Regions from separate parts of the Homo sapiens genome. Here region 2 is linked to region 1. The links come from fine-mapping of genetic effects on gene expression. Tissue or cell type: whole blood. Region 1 holds a variant in brackets; the other region holds the start of a gene. All regions are shown on one strand. Distances are from middle to middle.

The links. PIP is the estimated chance that this variant, and not a neighbour inherited with it, causes the effect.
Region 2: it holds the start of NUP214, and the variant in region 1 is fine-mapped to the expression of NUP214 in whole blood (INTERVAL, PIP above 0.99).

What each region holds. Positions count from the first base shown.
Region 1 is chr9:131,176,680-131,187,010 of GRCh38, forward strand. NUP214 (nucleoporin 214) reads left to right here. Exons shown (of 36, transcript NM_005085.4): 24 at 1,632-1,731. Among named protein-coding and RNA genes, the nearest start is that of NUP214, 56 kb to the left of the region's middle. The variant G/A (reference allele first, on the strand shown) is at 5,130.
Region 2 is chr9:131,122,217-131,131,350 of GRCh38, forward strand. NUP214 (nucleoporin 214) reads left to right here and starts at 3,370. Exons shown (of 36, transcript NM_005085.4): 1 at 3,370-3,533; 2 at 5,308-5,503; 3 at 6,116-6,267; 4 at 7,063-7,261; 5 at 8,550-8,620. The coding sequence starts at 3,489. AIF1L (allograft inflammatory factor 1 like) reads left to right here. Exons shown (of 6, transcript NM_031426.4): 6 at 1-928. It also overlaps the pseudogene RNU6-881P. RefSeq lists an enhancer at 3,269-3,568.

The sequences.
Region 1 (10,331 bases):
AATAAGTCAGTTAGCACTTAACATTTCGTCAGTGGCTTGTCATTATCCCAAACTTTCTACTACTTTCTACGTTAATGTACATTGTACATTAGGATTTTACAGTCTGCGTAGTTGGTCTCAAGGACTTCAGTTATCACTAGTTATCAGTTTTATAAGCTAGTAGTTCTCAACTAGAGGCTGCCCCCACTTCCCTGTCCTCCACCCCTGAAACAGTTGGCAGTGTTGCTGGCATTTAGTGGGTAGAGGCCAGGAATGCTGCAAAAAAAAAATCTTTAAAATGCATAAGACACCCCCACAACAAAGGGTTATCTAGCCCCAAAATGTCAGTAGTGCCAGGGTCAAGAAACAGATATAAGCCAAATATTTTCATTTTAGCTGAGTAAAATTATTTTTTAGATGTATCACTGCTTACAACACTTATCAATTTAGAGTTTTTTTTAAAGACTAAAAAGACATAATAGTTTGATTTAGGAAAAAAGAACTAACATTAAACAGTGATAAGTCAAAAGATTGTAAAGAAAAATTCAAATATTAAAACCTTTATTAAGACATCTAACATATATATTGAAGAACAAAACAAAGATAACTTTTGAGGTACCTTTGGGCTTTCTAAAAATAGAATTCTTTGATCTCTTTAAATATTACTTGGACCAGGTAGAATCTTGCCATTGTGCTGAACAGGCCTGAAATCAAGTTGATCAAGTCAATGATCTGTAAAACGTTAAAATCTATTAGGATTGAGGATTGTTCCACTCAGCAGAAGGTGGTGTGATCTGTATTATCATGTTGGATGCAAAAATTTCTAAGGTATAGGCACCTTTGAATATGAAATATGAAAGATGTGCAGTCGTGGGCAAGATGTTCTGGTCACTTCTTTGAAAGAGGGAATAAAAGAGAATTAACTACAGGTCTGTCATTCTGCTTGTGATAACCACTTTCACCTTGGCCAGTGATGCAGTTAGTAATGAGCCACAAGCTTTGCTCAGGCTTCCTTAATTGCTAATTATAGAATGTCATTAAGTCTTTTGGGATACAATTTACAATTATAAGACGAAAGCTGATGAGGAGGTGTCAGATATATGCCTCTTAGTCTCTTCTCCCATTATTGTCCAAGCTCCATTTTCCACATTTTATTCATTATGCCTTTCTGTCTCACTAGGCCATGAGTTTCTTTAGAGAAGAAACTATAGATACATTTTGTATTCGCAGCCCCTAACACAGAGCCTGGCACATAATAAGCCCATGTTAAAGAAAGACAGTGAATGAGTGGCAGAAATCCTGAGTCTAGATGCTGTTAATCCTCTAGCTCAAGCTGCCCTTTTCCAGGACAGACCAGCAGTGTGGCAGGTGTCTCAGCTCTGTGTAGAAAAGCTGGCCAGAGAATTCTTTTCCCCTACTCTAGTACATTCGATTCAGTTACAGGAAGCCTTGTTCCATCACCTGTGTTAATGGAGTAGGCCAGGTGTTCCTTTGAACACAATGCTGCAAGAACTACCTAGAGTAGATTTCCTTCACATGATAAGGCTCTAATCTGCTTGGGCTCATGTCTTGGTTTTTCATTTATATGTGGCTAGAACTTTTTATCCTTTGCTGGAATTAATATGGTGTTCTCTCTTCTCTGTTTAAATTAGCTGTAAACACTTTGACTGAATCAACGTTGAAGAATGTCCCTCAAGTGGTAAATGTGCAGGAATTGAAGAATAACCCTGCAACCCCTTCTACAGCCATGGGGTATGTTCTGACTGCAGTGTGTTTCAGCCCCTGGCTGCTTCTGTAGTAGCGGTGGACTGCCTGCAGGGAGCAGCAGTGCCACTGTCACAGTCTGGTTTTCCTGCACCGCCTTAGGTTATAAGGGGGGTGGCGGCTAAGCCTGCCTACACAATGCATTTTCAGGAGACTGTCCTTTTTAACTGGCCGGTGACAGTTGCCTCACAAACTTTTAAAGTTTGTCTTGATGCTGTATGCTCAGTTTCTGTTTGCCATGTGTAAGTCTCTGTGTGGTACACATTAGGTGTGCAGGTTGATTTTTTTTTTTTTTTTAATGCCCTAGGGGTTCCAGAGTTGATGCTTTGGGTCTCATGCAGACTTGATTCTGGAAACTGTAATCTCAAGGGTGACACTCTCCTCCCTCACTTCCCTTCTCCAGGCATTTCTGTTCTTCCCATTTCTTTTGCTTTTGTATAAAAGACAGCACCTCTGTTTGGAGACTTTAGCTTCTCTGCCATGCCATGTTTGAGGGCTGGATTGTTGCTGGTGGAGCTCACTTGTTTTTTTGGTGGTGGTGGTGGTTTTGTTGTTGTTGTTGTTGTTGTTTTTTGTTTTTTGTTTTTTCTTAGACAAGGTCTCACTCTTGCCCAGACTGGAGTGCAGAGTGCAGTACGATCATGGCACACTGTAGCCTTAACCTTCTGGGCCCAAGCCATGCTCCCATATCTGCCTCCCAAGTAGCTGCTGGGACTACAGGCACATGACACCACACCCAGCTAATTTTTTAATTTTTTGTAGAGATGGAGTTTTTGCCATGTCACCCCAGGCTGGTCTCAAATTTCTGGGCTCAAGTGATCCTCTCACCTCATCCTCACAAAGTGCTGTGATTATAGGCAGGAGCCACTGTGCCCAGCCTAGCTCATTTGTCTTTAGTCCTCATCTGTGTTCGGAATTCAGGGTGCTGACTCCCTCCCGCTGCCCTGGGCAGGTTCGCAGAACATGCCTGTGCCCTGCTTTGCCCTGCATATTTTGTGACTGTGATCCCTTTAGACCAACCACCATCCCCTGTGGCAAAGGGAAGAGTTGAGGGACATTTCCTCACTTGGAACATGGGGATCTTGAGGACTAGTATCAGATTTCAGGGAGTTAGTGTCTGGTACCCATGATTAGTCTAGCAGCAAGAAGGGCAGCCATAGACCTTGTGGTTCTCCACAGCGTGCCCACCCTCTGCCATTGCACAGAGCAGATCTGCCCACGGTTCTGTTTTCCCTCTCTCAAGTGGCCCTGCCTCACTGGTCCGCTGGCCTCTTTTTTTCCATGTTGTTCTGTTTATCAACACTGCTTGTTTGAGGAATTTTTAGTTATCTCAGGGCCATACTAACAGCCAAAAAACAAGCCTTCTCTATTACTATTTTGTAGTGACCTCGGAGCCTTGGTATGCTGTTTAGACCAAGATGGTATTTGTGGTTGTTGCAAGCTTTTCAAGGGAAAGAACTATGCATTAGAGTTTGGGAATTGTAGCCAGATTCCCAGCATAGGGAAGGCAAGGCAGAATGTTACATAAGATGGGAAAACTCAGCATATGGTACAGGAAGTATTGTCTAGTGTTTCTGAGATATATTAGGTGCTAACCATGTATGAGAAGCACCTTTTGGAGATTCCACTTCTCCTTTTCTCAAGCTTCATTTCCCTAAATGGTTCATCTGAGCTGATCTTTGATGAAGGGTTTGTTCAAGGAGTAATTTTGAGTCTACTCTTTCTGACAAAAAATCTCAGACAACTTAAGAAATCTTGAAGAAACTTTCTGTTCCATTCTCCACAGAATTAGACTCTGGTATAATTATTTCATGTGTATGCCCAGCATGGTGCCTGAAATGTAGAAGCATTCCTTTCAATAATCATTTATTGAATAATAGGTAAACTCTACTCCAAACATAAATTGAAAAGTGAAAATTGGTGTTTACTGCCACCCCTCCCCAGGAAAGATCGAGAGAATATGTTCATTGTAAAATGACTTGCTTTCAGATTCTTTTATGTTTTATTTTTAAAATTATTTTCAGCCAGCTCTCGTGGAACAGATTCTTTTAAACAGTAGTTTCCTAAGTGTATTTTAAGTATTTAATTTTGCAGTTAGCTTTTTCTCAGTGGTATCTACAGAAGATTCATCATAGGATGAGCTTACATATTTCTGCCATTGGTGTACTTTATGTTCATTGGCCTCATCCATTCAGTTCGTTGGAAGAGTGTTTATCTGGCGCCAACCCACAGCTATTCAAATTCCTTTGCAGTGCTCCATCGCTTGATTCAGCAGATTCTTACACAGCGTCTGCTGTGAGCATGATACTGCCCTGGGTACTAGAGATAGGGTAGTTGAATAAGACAAACCAAACAAGAAGACAGCCGGGAAACTGCCAATTACACAAACACTTATTTTGGTGTGCATTCATTCATTTATTCATTCTTTCAACAAATACTTAATGAGCATTTGTTGTATGCCACACAGTATTCTTAGGAGCTGGAGATAAACTACCTGTTTTGTTGTTAACAAAATAGACCAAAAAAACTAACAGACTGATTGTTTGGAGAGACAAACAATAATCAAAATAAATAAGTAAAATATGTAATATATTAGATGGTGATATGGTGTGATGGAGAAAATTAAAGCGGGGGAAAGGTTAGAGAGTATTGTCTGAACATGGGTTATAATTTTAAATAGGGTGGCCAGGGAAGGCCTTCTCAGGAAGGTGACCTTTGAATGAAGAGAGAAAGGCCACACAGCAGGTCTCATTAATATCTCGGAAGAAAGCTCCAAGCACAGGGCCTGTAGCAGGAGCGTGTCTACAAGTTGAAGAGCGAGTCAGGGGGGACCTCTGGTGACGAGAGTAGAGGGAACAAGAGGAAGAATGCTGGGGGAGTAGGTCAGGAAAGACTGTTGGTGGACAGTGTCTGTTTGAGTCCCTGCTTTCAGTTCTTTTGGGTATGTATGTAGGAGTGGAATCGCTGGATTACATAGCTCAAACTGGTTTACAGAGGTGCTGCACCATTTTTCATTCCCAACAGCAATGTATGGGGGTTCCAGCTTCTCCACATCCTCACCAACACTCATTATTGACTATCTTTTTGGTTATAGTCATCCTAGTGGTATAAAATGGTATCTCACACTATCAGTGGTTTTGATTTGCATTTCCCTAATGGCTGGTGATATTGAGCATCTTTTCACGTGCTTATTGGCCAGTTGTATCTTTGGAGAAATATCTATTTAGTTCCTTTGCTCCATTTTAAAATTAGGTTGTCTTTTTATTTTTGAGCTCTAAGTTTCTTTATATAATCTGTATTCAAGTCTCTCATCAAGCATATGATTTGCAAATATTTTCTCCCATTCTTTGAGTTGTTTTTCACTTTCTTGTTGTGTCCTTTGACAC[G/A]AAAATTTAGTCCAGTTTATCTATTTTTTCTTTTGTTGCTTGTGCTTTAGGTGTCACATGTAAGAAACCATTGCCTAATCCAAGGTCATAAAGATTTACACCGATGTTTTCTTTGAAGAGTTATGTGGTTTTAGCTCTTATATCTAGGTCTCTGATCCATTTGGAGTTAATTTTTGTAAATGGTGTGAAGTAGAGATCCAACTTCATTGTTTTGAATGTGGATATCCAGTTGTCCCAGCACCACAACATATCTTTTCCATCCTTTTATTTCAACTTATTTTGTCTTTATATTTAAAATGGGTTTCTTGTAGCACAGCAATGTGAATGTACTTAGTATCACTGAACTACATGTGCACTTAAAAATGGTTACTTTTAAGATGGCAGATTTTGTTAAGTGTATTTTACCACAATAAACAAAAATAATTTAAAAAAATAAAATGGATTTCTTATAGATTAGGGGTCCCCAGCCCTGGGCTGCAGACCAGTACCGGTCTGTGGCCTCTTAGGAACTGGGCCACACAGCAGGTGAGCGGCAGGCAAGTGAGCATTACCACCTGAGCTCCACCTCCTGTCAGATCAGCGGCAGCTTTGGATTCTCATAGGAGCATGAACCCTATTGTGAATTGCACATGCAAAGGATCTAGGTTGCATGCTCCTTATGATAATCTAACTGAATAAAATATAAAATTATAGCCTGATGATCTGAGGTGAAACAGTTTCATCCTGAAACCATCCCCCTCCGCTGTCCGTCTGTGGAAAAAATTGTCTTTCACAAAACCAGTCCCTGGTGCCAAAAAGGTTGGGGACCACAGTTGTAGACAGTATATAGTGGGCCTTAGCTTGCTTTTTTTTAATCTTGACCATCTGTGACTTTTAATTGGGGTGATTAGATCGTTTACCTTAAGTGTAATTATTGACATGTTTTGGTTTAAATCTGTTATATAGCTATTTGTTTCTATTTATCCCATCTGTTTGTTGTTCAGTTTTTGTTTTTCTGCCTTTTTTTGGGTTAAATGTCTCTATGACTCTATTTTAACTTTTTTGTTGACTTATTGGCTATAACTTGGTGTTATTTAAGTGCTTACATTAGGGTTTATAGTATACATCTTCAACTTATCACAGACTGTCTTCAAGTGATACTATATTACTAAAGAATAGTGTAAGAATCTAACAGCAGTATTCTATTTTCTCCCTTCACCACCTTTATGCTATTGTGCATTTTACTTCCACTGTATTGTAAACCTCATGATACATTGTTATAAACAGTTGACTATCTTTCCTCCCCACTACCCCCCAGATGGATTCTTCTTCTGTCGCCAAGGCTGGAGTGCAGTGGTGCGATTTCAGCTCACTGCAACCTCTGCCTCCCAGGTTCAAGTGATTTTCCTGCCTCAGCCTCCCTAGTAGCTGGGATTACAGGTGCCCACCATCACACCTGGCTAATTTTTATATTTTTGGTAGAGACGGGGTTTCGCCATGTTGGCCAGGCTGGTCTCGAACTCCTGACCTCAGGTGATCCGCCTGCCTCGGCCTCCCAAAGTGCTGGGATTACAGGCTTGAGCCACCGCGCCCGGCTGACTATCTTTTAAATACATTTAAATAAGAAGAAAAAAGTTTACATGTTTATACATATAGTTACCATTTCCAGGGTTCTTCATTCCTGTGTCTGGTCCCAGCTTGCCATCTGGTATAATTTTTCTTCTGCTCAAAGGACTTCCTTTAATGTTTCTTGAGGTTCATATCTGAATTCTTTTAGCTTTTGTATGTCTGCAGAAGTCTTTATTTCACCTTTGATTTTGAAAGATATTTTCACAGGGTAAAGAATTCTAGATTGGCAGTTTTTTTCTTTCACTGATTTAAAGATGTTCCTCTACTTTAAAAATAATAACTCTAGTAATGACCAGAAACTTAAAAGGAACTTTAATCCTTTTGTTTTTCTAATTACAAATGTTTGTTGTAGATATAAAAAAGATAGTTAAAAAGAACAAACTTAAAATCACCTTTATTCCCACCACAAATGTATGATTGTTATTTACACATTTTTTCATCCTTATTTTATGAAAATGTTTCTTGTTAGAGAAAAATTTGGATGCATGCTGCTTTGTAAATTTGTAACCTTTTCAGCTTAATCATGAAATGTAATCGTTTACATTTTCCATGTCATTAAAAATTCTTACACTATTCGTATTTTTTCTTTTCTTTTTCTTTTTTCTTTTTCTTTTTTTTTTTTTTTTTTTTTTGAGATGGAGTCTCGCTTTGTCACCCAGGCAGGAGTGCAGTGGCGCAATCTCAGCTCATTCCAACCTCCGCCTCTCAGGTTCAAGCGATTCTCCTGCCTCAGCCTCCTGAGTAGCTGGGATTACAGGTGTGCACCAGCACAGCCGGCTAATTTTTGTATTTTTAGTAGAGACGGGGTTTAACCATGTTGGCCCGGCTGATTTCAAATTCCTGACCTCAGATGATCCACCCACCTTGGCCTCCCAAATGCTGGGACTACACGCGTGAGACACTGCAGCCGGCCTCTCTCTTTTTTTTTTTTTTTTGAGATGGAGTCTCGCTCTGTCACTCAGGCTGGAGTGCAGTGGCACAATCTTGGCTCACTGCAACCTCTGTCTCCCGGGTTCAAGCGATTCTCATGCTTCAGCCTCCCAAGTAGCTGGGACTACAGGCACCTGCCACCACACCTGGCTAATTTTTTTGTATTTTTAGTAGAGACGGAGTTTCACCATGTTGGCCAGGCTGGTCTCGAACTCCTGACCTCAAGTGATACACCCACCTCGGCCTCCCAAAGTGCTGGGATTACAGGCGTGAGACACCGTGCCTGGCCTATTTTTTCATATTTAATGTGGATTTTTTCAAAGCTCTAATGCAATTCCGTCTTAATTATTTAAGTTACTTAGCATCTAAACATTCATGCAGGAAATACAATTTGCTTTAACAGACTTTTGGATACTATTTTAAAGAATGTGTCTTTGAAGACATTAAATTTACCAATGGAGAAAATAGTTGGCAGTTATATTTCCATCGACAGATGTCAAAAACGCCCAAGAATTGAATATAGAGTGTTTGTTTTCAGTATCTTCTATCATTTTCATTCTTTTTCCCTGTTGATTTCTTTGTTTCTTCAGTTACTCTTGATAAGTTCCACTCTCTCATATATGAGTATGTATGAAAAGATACATGTGATAGTGATTAAGATTTACCAAAATAAAACATAACCAGGTCTCTTGTTTTTTATGCTTTTTAAAATCCTGAAATAAGTTACAAGAAGTTGAGGCTTTTTACAACAATGGGATGAGTATTTACCTTGTTGAAGTTCATTAAAGTTGGAGGGATCAATAGCAAAGGGCCTAGGTGACATTTTAATGCTTCACAACCCAATTTTATAATTGTGTGTAGAGTACACATCCATGGAACATGTGTGCATTTGTCTGCCTCTGTTGGCATGTAGTGCTGGTAATGTGTGGCCAAAAACAGAAAAAAATGACTCTTCTGTGTTTTATTTTTCTCCAAGAACCCGAGTTTCCAGACTCTTAGTGATCTGTGCCTCTGTCGCTCATTTCTGAAGCAGGAACTTTAGTGTTGCTGGCAATGTCAGTGTCATTTGTAGACTCACTCAGTAAAGAGATGTCTCTTTGGGGCTCTGTTATAGCACCATTTTCTTCTTAGAACAAATATCAAGATGAATTTCTGATATTTTTCAACTCCATATTGCTAAAAAGTGGAATAAAGTCACCTAAGATATGGATACTTCTGAATTTGGCTTTTCTATCTCTTGATCATTTCTAGCTATTGATTTCCATTGTTTTGGTTCATGCTCATGCAAAAACGTTTGAACATATTTGTTTGAGAGTATACTGTTTTTTTCTGTGTGCTGTCTTGGATCTTGATAAGAGATTTATTGGATCTGGTTTGTTAATTGGTTTACTGGCTGATTGCACTGAACAGCATTTCTTTGCAGGGGTGTCACGTGGTGTGTAGGTACTGTGAATCCTAATTTTGTGTATTTGGGGATTTAGGATACTCAGGAGATACATAGAATTATCACAAATAAATAGAATAATAATTACACTCAGTCTTATTCATGCATAATTTACTATCATGTCACAATTGAATTCTGGCTGTAAAAAATTTTCTAAAATTTGGATAAATTGCTGCTTTTATTTTTATTTCTGATTTCTGTTTGTCTTTGAGAAAGCATGAAAGAGTTTCCTTTCCTTTGTAATCCTTGTGAGCTCCAACCTCTTCTCTAAGCAAGTCTGCTGTGTCTGTCCAGGTACTGCTCAGGGCCCAGCAGTCTCACTCACACATTCTTTTCCTCTGGTACAGATTCAGCGGAGGTGACGGGGGAACACTGTATCTGTATTGCCTGCTTGGTAAACTATCTCAGGGGAACAGAGATGTGTTTCTCCAGAGAGATGCATATTTATAGCTGCTTCTGGCTTCAGTAGAAGCATGAAACGGGTTTTGTTTCATTGAACATAAGTTCACTTTTTCTTCTCTCTCAATCTAATAAAGTCTGTTTAGGAAGGTCCCCTTGTTATTCCAGCAGAGAATCTCAATATGCTTGTAAGGTTTGTTAAGCTGTTTGATAATTTTCTTCCGTGAGGCACAGGCCTATCTTTTATCTTCTAAGTTCATTTTTGATGGAAAATATGAATCCTCCCTAAATCTAGGGGAGTTCTGAAAAATAACCAGGTCCTACAACTACTACTGCTATATATACCAGTCAGAGTAGCGCTGGGCTGACAACAGATAAATTGAAAAAATTGCCGCTAGGAGCCAAGAACTTTTGTGTGTGATTACACTAACAGGTAGTTTTCCCATATGTGAACACTAGTTATTGAAATAACAGTTCCTCACATACAGTATTCACCTACTTCAGAGTTAACAAAAGATGATGAGAGCTCTTTCTGCGAATAGGGGTATACTTTTCATGCTGTAGCAAAGATGCAGGTTGGGAATGGAACAGTGGTACATTTGAATCCCTTGGATGCTGACCTGGTGAGCCCTGGAGATAGCTGCTGTGAGAAGCTAAGATCTCTTTGGATAGCACCTTTGCGGTAGCAGCGAATTGGATGCATAGGTGGCAGTGAGAATGCTTCCCATAGAGCCTGCTTGGGTAAGAGAATCAGGAATTTCTCGTGGTCTACAACAGGGGGAAGGGCCAGGGAGGAGGAGGGCTTATACTCTGGATAGCAA
Region 2 (9,134 bases), 55 kb before region 1:
TCCCTGCGGCTCCTTAGTCACCTCTGATAGCAGATTGAGGGAGGAAAACAGGTAAGGCATGAGGAAATGGCCAGGTTGGGTTAACCCACTGGTTTCAACCAGTTCAGGAATGAGGTTATTTGGCCATGACTGGCTGATCTTGAGCTCAAGGATCTGCTTCAAATGCACACAGGCCTAGTTGAAGTTTAAACCCCAGCAAAACATTCCTCCCTGTAAATGGAAAATCCTACTTCTACCCCCACCCTGCCCTGTTTTTTGTTTTTTTTTTCCCCAAGATCATTAGATGTCCTCACCCCTCCTCACTGCCTCTCCTCTCTGGGACAGGCTGGGACCTTTGAGGAAGATAAAGCCTTCCTTCACTACCCATCATATTCAGTGTCCCTGTTCCTCACTCAGAGAGGAAGGCAGAACCAGTCAGGCTTATTTCAGTAAGTTCCACAGTTCTACAAGACTGCAGGAATTCTCCTTAAGGGAGGAGAGCAAGCAGGTGTGGCCCCAGCTTCTGGAAATGGCAGAAGAGAGGGTTTTCTCATTGAATGGGGGTGGGGGCTCGTGTGTCCTGGGAAACCCCATCAGTCCCTTCATTTCTTGAGACTCAACTCCTGGGAGGAGAGGGTCTCAAGAGTTGTCCCTGGAAGGAGGGCGGGGGCAGTCTGCATCTATTTCAGGTTGTGGCTCTTGGTTCTAGGACTCTTACTTCTCTGGCTAAGGGCTCAGCTTCTTGGGACTTCAACCATCTTCTTTCTGAAAGACCAAATCTAATGTAACCAGTAACGTGAGGACTGCCAAGTATGGCTTTGTCCCTATGACTCAGAGGAGGGTTTGTCGGGCAAATTCAGGTGGATGAAGTATGTGTGTGCGTGTGCATGGGAGTGTGCGTGGACTGGGATATCATCTCTACAGCCTGCAAATAAACCAGACAAACTTACCAACGTCTTGATTGGTGTATTTTGGGGCTGGTTCTGGGCTCAGCAAATTGCGAACTAGCTAATATAGTAAGAGATTAAATGAGCATGTCCTGTGCCTTTTGTCTGAGACAGCTGAAATTCACTTATCCTAACCACCTCCCTGCAAGAGACAGGTTCTATTATGTCATCCTTGTTTCACAACTGAAAAGTAGGCTTGAATAAGCAATGTGCTGCAAGCCAAACAGTAAATGGCACAATCCGACCCCCCTGGAGCCAACCCATGAGGTCCAAGTTAAGAACCTCTGTCGGCCGGGCGCGGTGGCTCACGCCTGTAATCCCAGCACTTTGGGAGGCTGAGGTGGGCGGATCACGAGGTCAGGAGATGGAGACCATCCTGGCTAACACGGTGAAACCCCGTCTCTACTAAAAATACAAAAAATTAGCCGGGCGTGGTGGCGGCCGCCTGTAGTCCCAGCTACTTGGGAAGCTGAGGCAGGAGAATGCTGTGAACCCGGGAGGCAGAGCTTGCAGTGAGCCGAGATCGCGCCACTGCACTCCAGCATGAGTGACAGAGTGAGACTCCGTCTCAAAAAAAAAAAAGAACCTCTGTCCTAGAGCATTTATAATTCACTACAGAAATGTATTCTATGAAGGACTTTAATACCATCAGTCAGCCTTATCCAGACGATCTCAATTCTAATCCTGTCACCACCACTTTCTGACTGAGGGCTATTGGAGAATTTTCTCAACTTCTCTGTGCCTCCCTTACCTCATCAATTATTATTATGTATGTGTATGTGTGTGTGTGTATATATATATATATGTGTGTGTGTGTATATATATATGTGTGTGTGTGTGTGTATATATATATATATATATATATTTTTTTTTTTTTTTTTTTTTTTTTCTGAGACAGAGTCTCACTCTGTCACCCAGGCTGGAGTGCAGTGGCACAATCTTAGCTCACTGCAACCTCCACCTTTTGTGTTCATGCGATTCTCCTGCCTCAGCCTCCTGTATAGCTGGGAACACAGGCGTCCGCCACCACACCCGGCTAATTGTTGTATTTTTAGCAGAGACGGGGTTTCACCATGTTGGCCAGGCTGGTCTCGAGCTCCTGACCTCAGGTGTTCCACCCACCTCGGCCTCCCAAAGTACTGTGGTTACAGGCGTGAGCCACTGCTCCCAGCCTATTTTTATTTACTTTTTTTTTTTTTTTTTTTTTGAGACGGAGTCTCGCTCTTTCGCCCAGGCCAGACTGCAGTGGCGCTGTCTCTGCTCACTGCAACCTCCGCCTCCCGGGTTCACGCCATTCTCCTGCCTCAGCCTCCCGAGTAGCTGGGACTACAGGTGCCCGCCACCGCGCCCGGCTAATTTTTTGTATTTTTAGTAGAGTCGGGGTTTCACCGTGTTAGCCAGGATGGTCTCCATCTCCTGACCTCGTGATCCGCCCGCCTCGGCCTCGCAAAGTGCTGGGATTACAGGCGTGAGCCACCGCGCCCGGCCTTTTATTTACTTTTTGAGACAGGGCCTGGCTCTGTCACCCAGGCTGGAGTGCAATGGTGCAATCACAGCTCCCTGTAGCCTCAACCTCCTGGGCTCAGGCAATTCTCCCACCTCAGCCTCCCGAGTAGCTGAGACTACATACGCATGCCATCACTGCTGGCTAATTTTTGTGGTTTTGTTTTGTTTTTTATAGAGACGGGGTCTCGCCATGTTGCCGAGGCTGGTCTCAAACTCCTGGTCTCAAGCAATCCTCCTGTCTCCGCCTCCCAAGTGCTGGGATTATAGGCATGAGCCACCCGCGTCTCATCAATTAAATAAATAACCCCTAGGACGACTAAGATGTCTTCAAGATTACATGAGATCCCACATCTGAAGGTTTTTGCAAAGGACTTGGCACAAACTCGTGCGACTAGACATGGATATGGCTCTTGCTCTGGAAAGGATCACCTTGATAGGAGCAAACAAAGCTGGTCTTCGGTGCCCTTTAATCTCCCCTCCCAGCCTTCCACCTTCCACACTTTAAGAGTCGTCCCTGCCGACCCCCCGACCCCGTTTTTCTGAACCTCCCTTCCTCCCCTTGCATAGTCCAAAGCCTCTCTCTAAAGCAGCCCCCCGAAAACATCTGTCAAGTTCCAAACTTATCTGAATCGGAAGCTACCAATAGCCAACCTACATCTAAGGGGAACTGTAAGATTTCAGAAGAACAAGAAGCATAGGTCGCTTAGGCGTGGGCCACCCAAGAAGAGAGACTTAACACTAGGTAAGCCCGCGCTGGCTGCGAAGGCGGGAGCGGCACCAGGACCATCCAGGGCGCAGGCGCAGGGACCTCACGGCCACGCCACTACTCAGCCCGAGCTGGCCAATGGGGAGCGGCGGCCGGAAGAACGCGCGGCTTCGCTAGGTTCCGCGGCTTCCTCTGACCAAGCTTGACGTCACCAAAGCGCGCCGGAAATGCGAGGTCAACTGCGCGCCGCTGGCGCTGAGGGGAGGAAGTTTGCTGTCGAGCGGCCTGGGTTCCGTGGGCAAGGCCGTGGGAGGCAGCGTTGGCTGCTTCGACACACTGAGGGCGGCGCGATGGGAGACGAGATGGATGCCATGATTCCCGAGCGGGAGATGAAGGTCAGAGACTAACCGGGGCCTCCCTCCCTTCTTTAGTCCTGGCGTTGCCTTGGAGCCCAGCTGAAAGGCGAAGCGCGGTGCTGGCTGTCCCGCCTCCTGCTTGAACAGTTTACCGCGTTCACAGCTCTCACCAGCGCGTCTGCCGCGCCGCTGGCGTGATAGCCCCACCGAATGCAGTTTCCCAGTCCCATCCTGGTCTCGTGCACGGCTGTTGAGTTACCCTAGCTACTTCCTGGGGCGGTCACAATAGTGGCAATAACTGCTGTTTATTGAGTGTTGACTGTGTGCCAGGCACTGTGGTAGTCATCGCGGCAGCCCTACGAAGTAGTCGTTAACGTAGAGGAGTAAGTTGAGGCTCGGAAAGTAATTTCCCTAAAGTCACATTTGACGCGGGGCTGAAAGCCAGCATCATTTAAGACCTTTGCTCTCCCAGTACTTCTGTAAGGTGATACGGGCTTGCCTAACGTAGAGTCAGGGAAGGTCATCCATCCTGCAGAACCTTTAGTTGATTGGACTAGGAAGACTATTTTGACCTCGGTATATCAGCCTAAAGTCAGGAACCTAAAGGGAGGGCCAAGTGGTCCCAGTGATAGCAACGTGGGAGTCCCCCAGGGATAACTTCAGGATGGTGTGTTTAATAGTTCTTATATGGGTTCTGACAGAATGAGGGTACAACAGACGGGCTACATCTGTTTTAAATAGTGAAAAGAAGTAAGTTGCAGGAAGATTTTAGGCATCTGTGTGAACAATAAATCACTAAAATGCATTTAGGGCATAGTAATACCATGTTTAGAATAGTGATTTTTTTTTTTTTTTGAGACAGAGTCTTGCTCTGTCACCCAAGCTGGAGTGCAGTGGCATGATCTCGGCTCCCTGCAACCTCCACCTCCCCGGCTCAAGCGATTCTCCTGCTTCAACCTCCCTAGTAGCTGGTATTACAGGCGCCTGCCACCACGCCCCACTAATTTTTTATATCATTTGGTAGAGACTGGGTTTCACGATGTTGGCCAGGCTGGTCTCGAACTCCTGACCTAACGTGATCCGCCCTCCTCTGGCTCCCAAAGTGCTGGGATTATAGGCGTGAGCTACCGTGCTGTCCTAGAATAGTGATTATTTTTTGAGAATCACCACCTGTGGTGAGCCACCTAATGGGGTTGTGTCATATTCCTCAGATATGCTGGGGTAGAAGAAAAAAAGGTTTTATTAATAGAACCACAGACTTAGAAGATGGTAATCTCGCACTCCCTTTGGCAGCACATATAAAATTGGGATCATGCAGAGAAGACTATTATGGCCCCTTTACATGGATGACAGACAAATTCATGAAGTGTTCCATATCAGAAAAAAATGAGGGCCGAGTGTGGTGGCTCATGCCTGTGAGCTTGCACTTTGGGAGGCTGAGGTGGATGGATCACTTGAGGTCCGGAGTTCGAGACTAGCCTGGCCAACATAATGAAACCCTGTGTCTACTAAAAATACAAAAATTAGATGGCCATGGTGGCGGGTGCCTGTAATCCCAGCTACTTGGGAGTCTGAAGCAGGAGAATCGCTTGAACCTGGGAGGCAGAGGTTGCAGTGAGCCAAGATCGCTGCACTGCACTCCAGCCTGGACGACAGAGCGAGACTCCATCTCAAAAAAGAAAAAAAGACAATTGAGACAGACCTTGGTCTCAGTAATACATATTTTTGTTGTACTGAAATTGGGTCTACTGAATATAACATGTTTTAATTTCTTTCTTTATTGAATTGATCTCGTTTTGATTCTTCACAACAGGATTTTCAGTTTAGAGCGCTAAAGAAGGTGAGAATCTTTGACTCCCCTGAGGAATTGCCCAAGGAACGCTCGAGTCTGCTTGCTGTGTCCAACAAATATGGTCTGGTCTTCGCTGGTGGAGCCAGTGGCTTGCAGATTTTTCCTACTAAAAATCTTCTTATTCAAAATAAACCCGGAGATGATCCCAACAAAATAGGTAAGTTCCCTGGTTTATGTTGCAAAGTAGAGAGAGGAGTATGGTGGCATGCTCTTGTGTTTCCTTCCCAAGAAGTCATTCTAATACTAAAATGAACACTGCTGTCAGTTTGAAGGTTGACTCCCAAGAAGATTAATGGAAGCCTTTCTAGGTTTTCTCCTTGGTCCTTTGTATTTCTCCTTACATGAGTTGTTCCTCTCAGCTCAACAGGGAAGAACTTAACCATTATGCCATGCTTTTATTTTTGCTCAGTTGAACTTGGGCTCTGGCTCTCTGGGTGAAGGGTTTTATTGGCATGGGTTTTCAGTTGGCACAACAGTATGATCCAAACTATTGGCAAGGTGTACTATTTAGAGCATTGTTGCAAAAATATTTTCAACAAGGGCAGCAGCCACAGTTAGTTTCCCCAGATTGTATGAGGAAGAATTCCAGGGATACTTAATCCATCATTATATATCTTTAAGAAAGTTAAGATTTATCTGTATAACTAGGTATTGGGGTGTATGTGTGTTTATGTAGATGCAAAAATTTTTTCACATCGAACTGGATAGAGGTTGTGGCTTTATGCTTAGAACATACCGTTTTCTGCTTTGTATTTTTTTGTTTTCATAGTTGATAAAGTCCAAGGCTTGCTAGTTCCTATGAAATTCCCAATCCATCACCTGGCCTTGAGCTGTGATAACCTCACACTCTCTGCGTGCATGATGTCCAGTGAATATGGTTCCATTATTGCTTTTTTTGATGTTCGCACATTCTCAAATGAGGTAAGCTACTGTTATACTGTGATGTCAACATGAGAACCCTAAGCAGATTTCCTTGTATTGAATTACAACTTGGAAGCTTCATAGGTTAACCCTTGAAGTTTCTCTCTAGATTAAAATATGGGTTAAAAAAAAATCCTTAATTATAGAATCATAGATCTTTGAGACAGAAGGGACTTCAAGAAATTCTTTCATAACGCCATCTGCCCTAAGTTGTTATCAGGAGGCTTAGGTGACTTGCCCAAAGTCATAGATGAATACATAATGTCAAAAGTTCCTACATTTTGGATGTTCTTCCATTCCAAGCAGTTTAAGAATGATAATAATAGTGAGTGTTTATACTGACTGTGTGTGTTAGACTCTGTACTAAGTGCTTTATATGCCTTGTCCCTCGTTCATGCCTACCACAGCCTTATGTAGTAGGTACTATTATCTTCATTTTATAGGTAGAGAAACAGGCTCAGAGTTTAAGTAACTGTCCAAGGTCCCAACATTATTAAGAAGCAGAGCCAAGATTTTAATCTATTGTCTGCTATTTATTGGTTATTTTGCAATTGTGCATTCCCCTTCTGAGAGTCCCCCTAAGCATGTTAGAATAATTGATTGCCATTTTCAAAGTTGTGTTGAAATTGTCTATAGCAAATAGATTGATGCATAAAACAATCTTTTTTTATGGTTATGGAGAAAAATAAACTGATTTGAGATACCTTGTGTATTCAGTAATTTCCATTGAATATTAAATGTTTCTGCATTTACTATTTGTTAACTTATTTCACTTTTGCATATTTGTTTTAAAAGGCTAAACAGCAAAAACGCCCATTTGCCTATCATAAGCTTTTGAAAGATGCAGGAGGCATGGTGATTGATATGAAGTGGAACCCCACTGTCCCCTCCATGGTGGCAGTTTGTCTGGCTGATGGTAGTATTGCTGTCCTGCAAGTCACGGAAACAGTGAAAGTATGTGCAACTCTTCCTTCCACGGTAGCAGTAACCTCTGGTGAGTAATAAAGGCTTTCACACTGTAGCATACAATCATGGTCATCTACTTAAGAATTGATTTCTAGAAGTGAAAGTGGATAGCTTTTTGTGTTTTGGTTTTTTTTTTCATGACGAGGGAGGTTAAGGATGGAAGGTATTCTTTTTTGAGACAGTCTCACTGTGTCGCCCAGGCTGGAGTACAGTGGCATCATCTCAGCCACTGCAACCTCCACCTCCTGGGTTCAAGCAATTCTCGTGCCTCGGCCACCCAAATAGCTGGGATTATAGACATGCGCCACCATGCCCAGCTAATTTTTGTATTTTTTGTAGAGACAAGGTTTCACCATGTTGGCCAGGCTGGTCTTGAACTCCTGACCTCAAGTGATCTGCCCTCCTCCACCCCGCATATGCTAGGATTACAGGTGTGAGGCACTGTGCCCGGCTGAGAGTATTCTTTATACCCATAGTTAATGTCCTTGAAGCCAAACAGCATACATAATTTAACCTGAATGTACTTGGGATTTCTGGAGAAATATTTTGGTACAGCTGGTTTAGAAGTGTTTTTTGGGAATAATTGTTTCTGGATCTGTAACGGTGGTACTCTGAAAGTCATTTGTACCTTTGGGCGGAAAAGCATTTTAAATATTAAATGGGAGCAGGAGAATGATTTCTGGTTTTGTTTTTTTTTTTTTGTTTTTTTTTTGAGACAGAGTCTTGCTCTGTCGCCCAGGCTGGAGTGCAGTGGCGCGATCTCAGCTCACTGCAACCTCCACCTGCTGGGTTCAAGCAATTCTCTTGCCTCAGACTCCAGAGTAGTTGGGATTACAGGTGCCTGCCACCATGCCCAGCTAATTTTTGTATATTTTAGTAGAGACGGGGTTTCACCATGTTGGCCAGGCTGGTCTTGAACTTCTGACCTCAAGTGATCCGTCCGTCTCATCCTCCCAAAGTGCTGGGATTACAGGCATGAGCCACTGTGCCCGGCCAGTGATTTCTTGGTATTTGGAAACCTTCTCTGTTCTCCTTGTCTTATGTAAAGACTACAGAGTTTTCTGTATTTTGCAGCTTTCTGGGCAGTAATCTATTGAAAAAGCATTTTTAGCTTTCAATTCAATAGCCCAGTGATAAATCAATTGGCTTATATCGTTAAAATGATTTTACTTTTTTCCACTTTGCCTGATAGAGATGATCCTACAATCTTCCATGGACTGACAGAGGAATGAGAATTGATAATTAGCTGTGTGTGATAGATCTTATTGGTTTGCTCCATTTTCTTGTTTTCATTTGGTAATACTGTCTTTGCTCAGTGTGCTGGAGCCCCAAAGGAAAGCAGCTGGCAGTGGGAAAACAGAATGGAACTGTGGTCCAGTATCTTCCTGTAAGTTCTTATCTTGAACTTCAGAATTTTTCTTAAGTTGCCCACTTTTTTGGGGGTGGTTTGGGAGTATCTTTCTTGTTTTTCCTATTAAAAAGTAATTTATACTCATTGTAACAAATCCATCAGTGAATGAAGAGTGGAACTCTTCCCTTTCCCATAGTCCTTCTTCCAGAGGCACCCACTATGTTGTGTTGAGTAGATAGCCTTCCATACTTTTCTGGATGTTATACAAATAGTCTATGGGTAGCTGCTTTTTTTTTGTTGTTGTTTTTATGTAAAATGTGATCATACGCTATGCGCTGTTCCCCACCTTTTTCAGTCCATTCCATAAAAACAGCTCAAGGGAAAAGAGTTAGTGAAAAAACTATGATGATAATGCAGAATCACTCTGGGTTAAAGCACAGTATTTGTCTTTTAACTGAGTCTGTCTTTAAAGGTCTGTTTGTCTAACTATGGGCACCAAAGAAAATGGATACTCTTGTTGCATGTGCACTCTGTCATCCTCCCTGTGAAT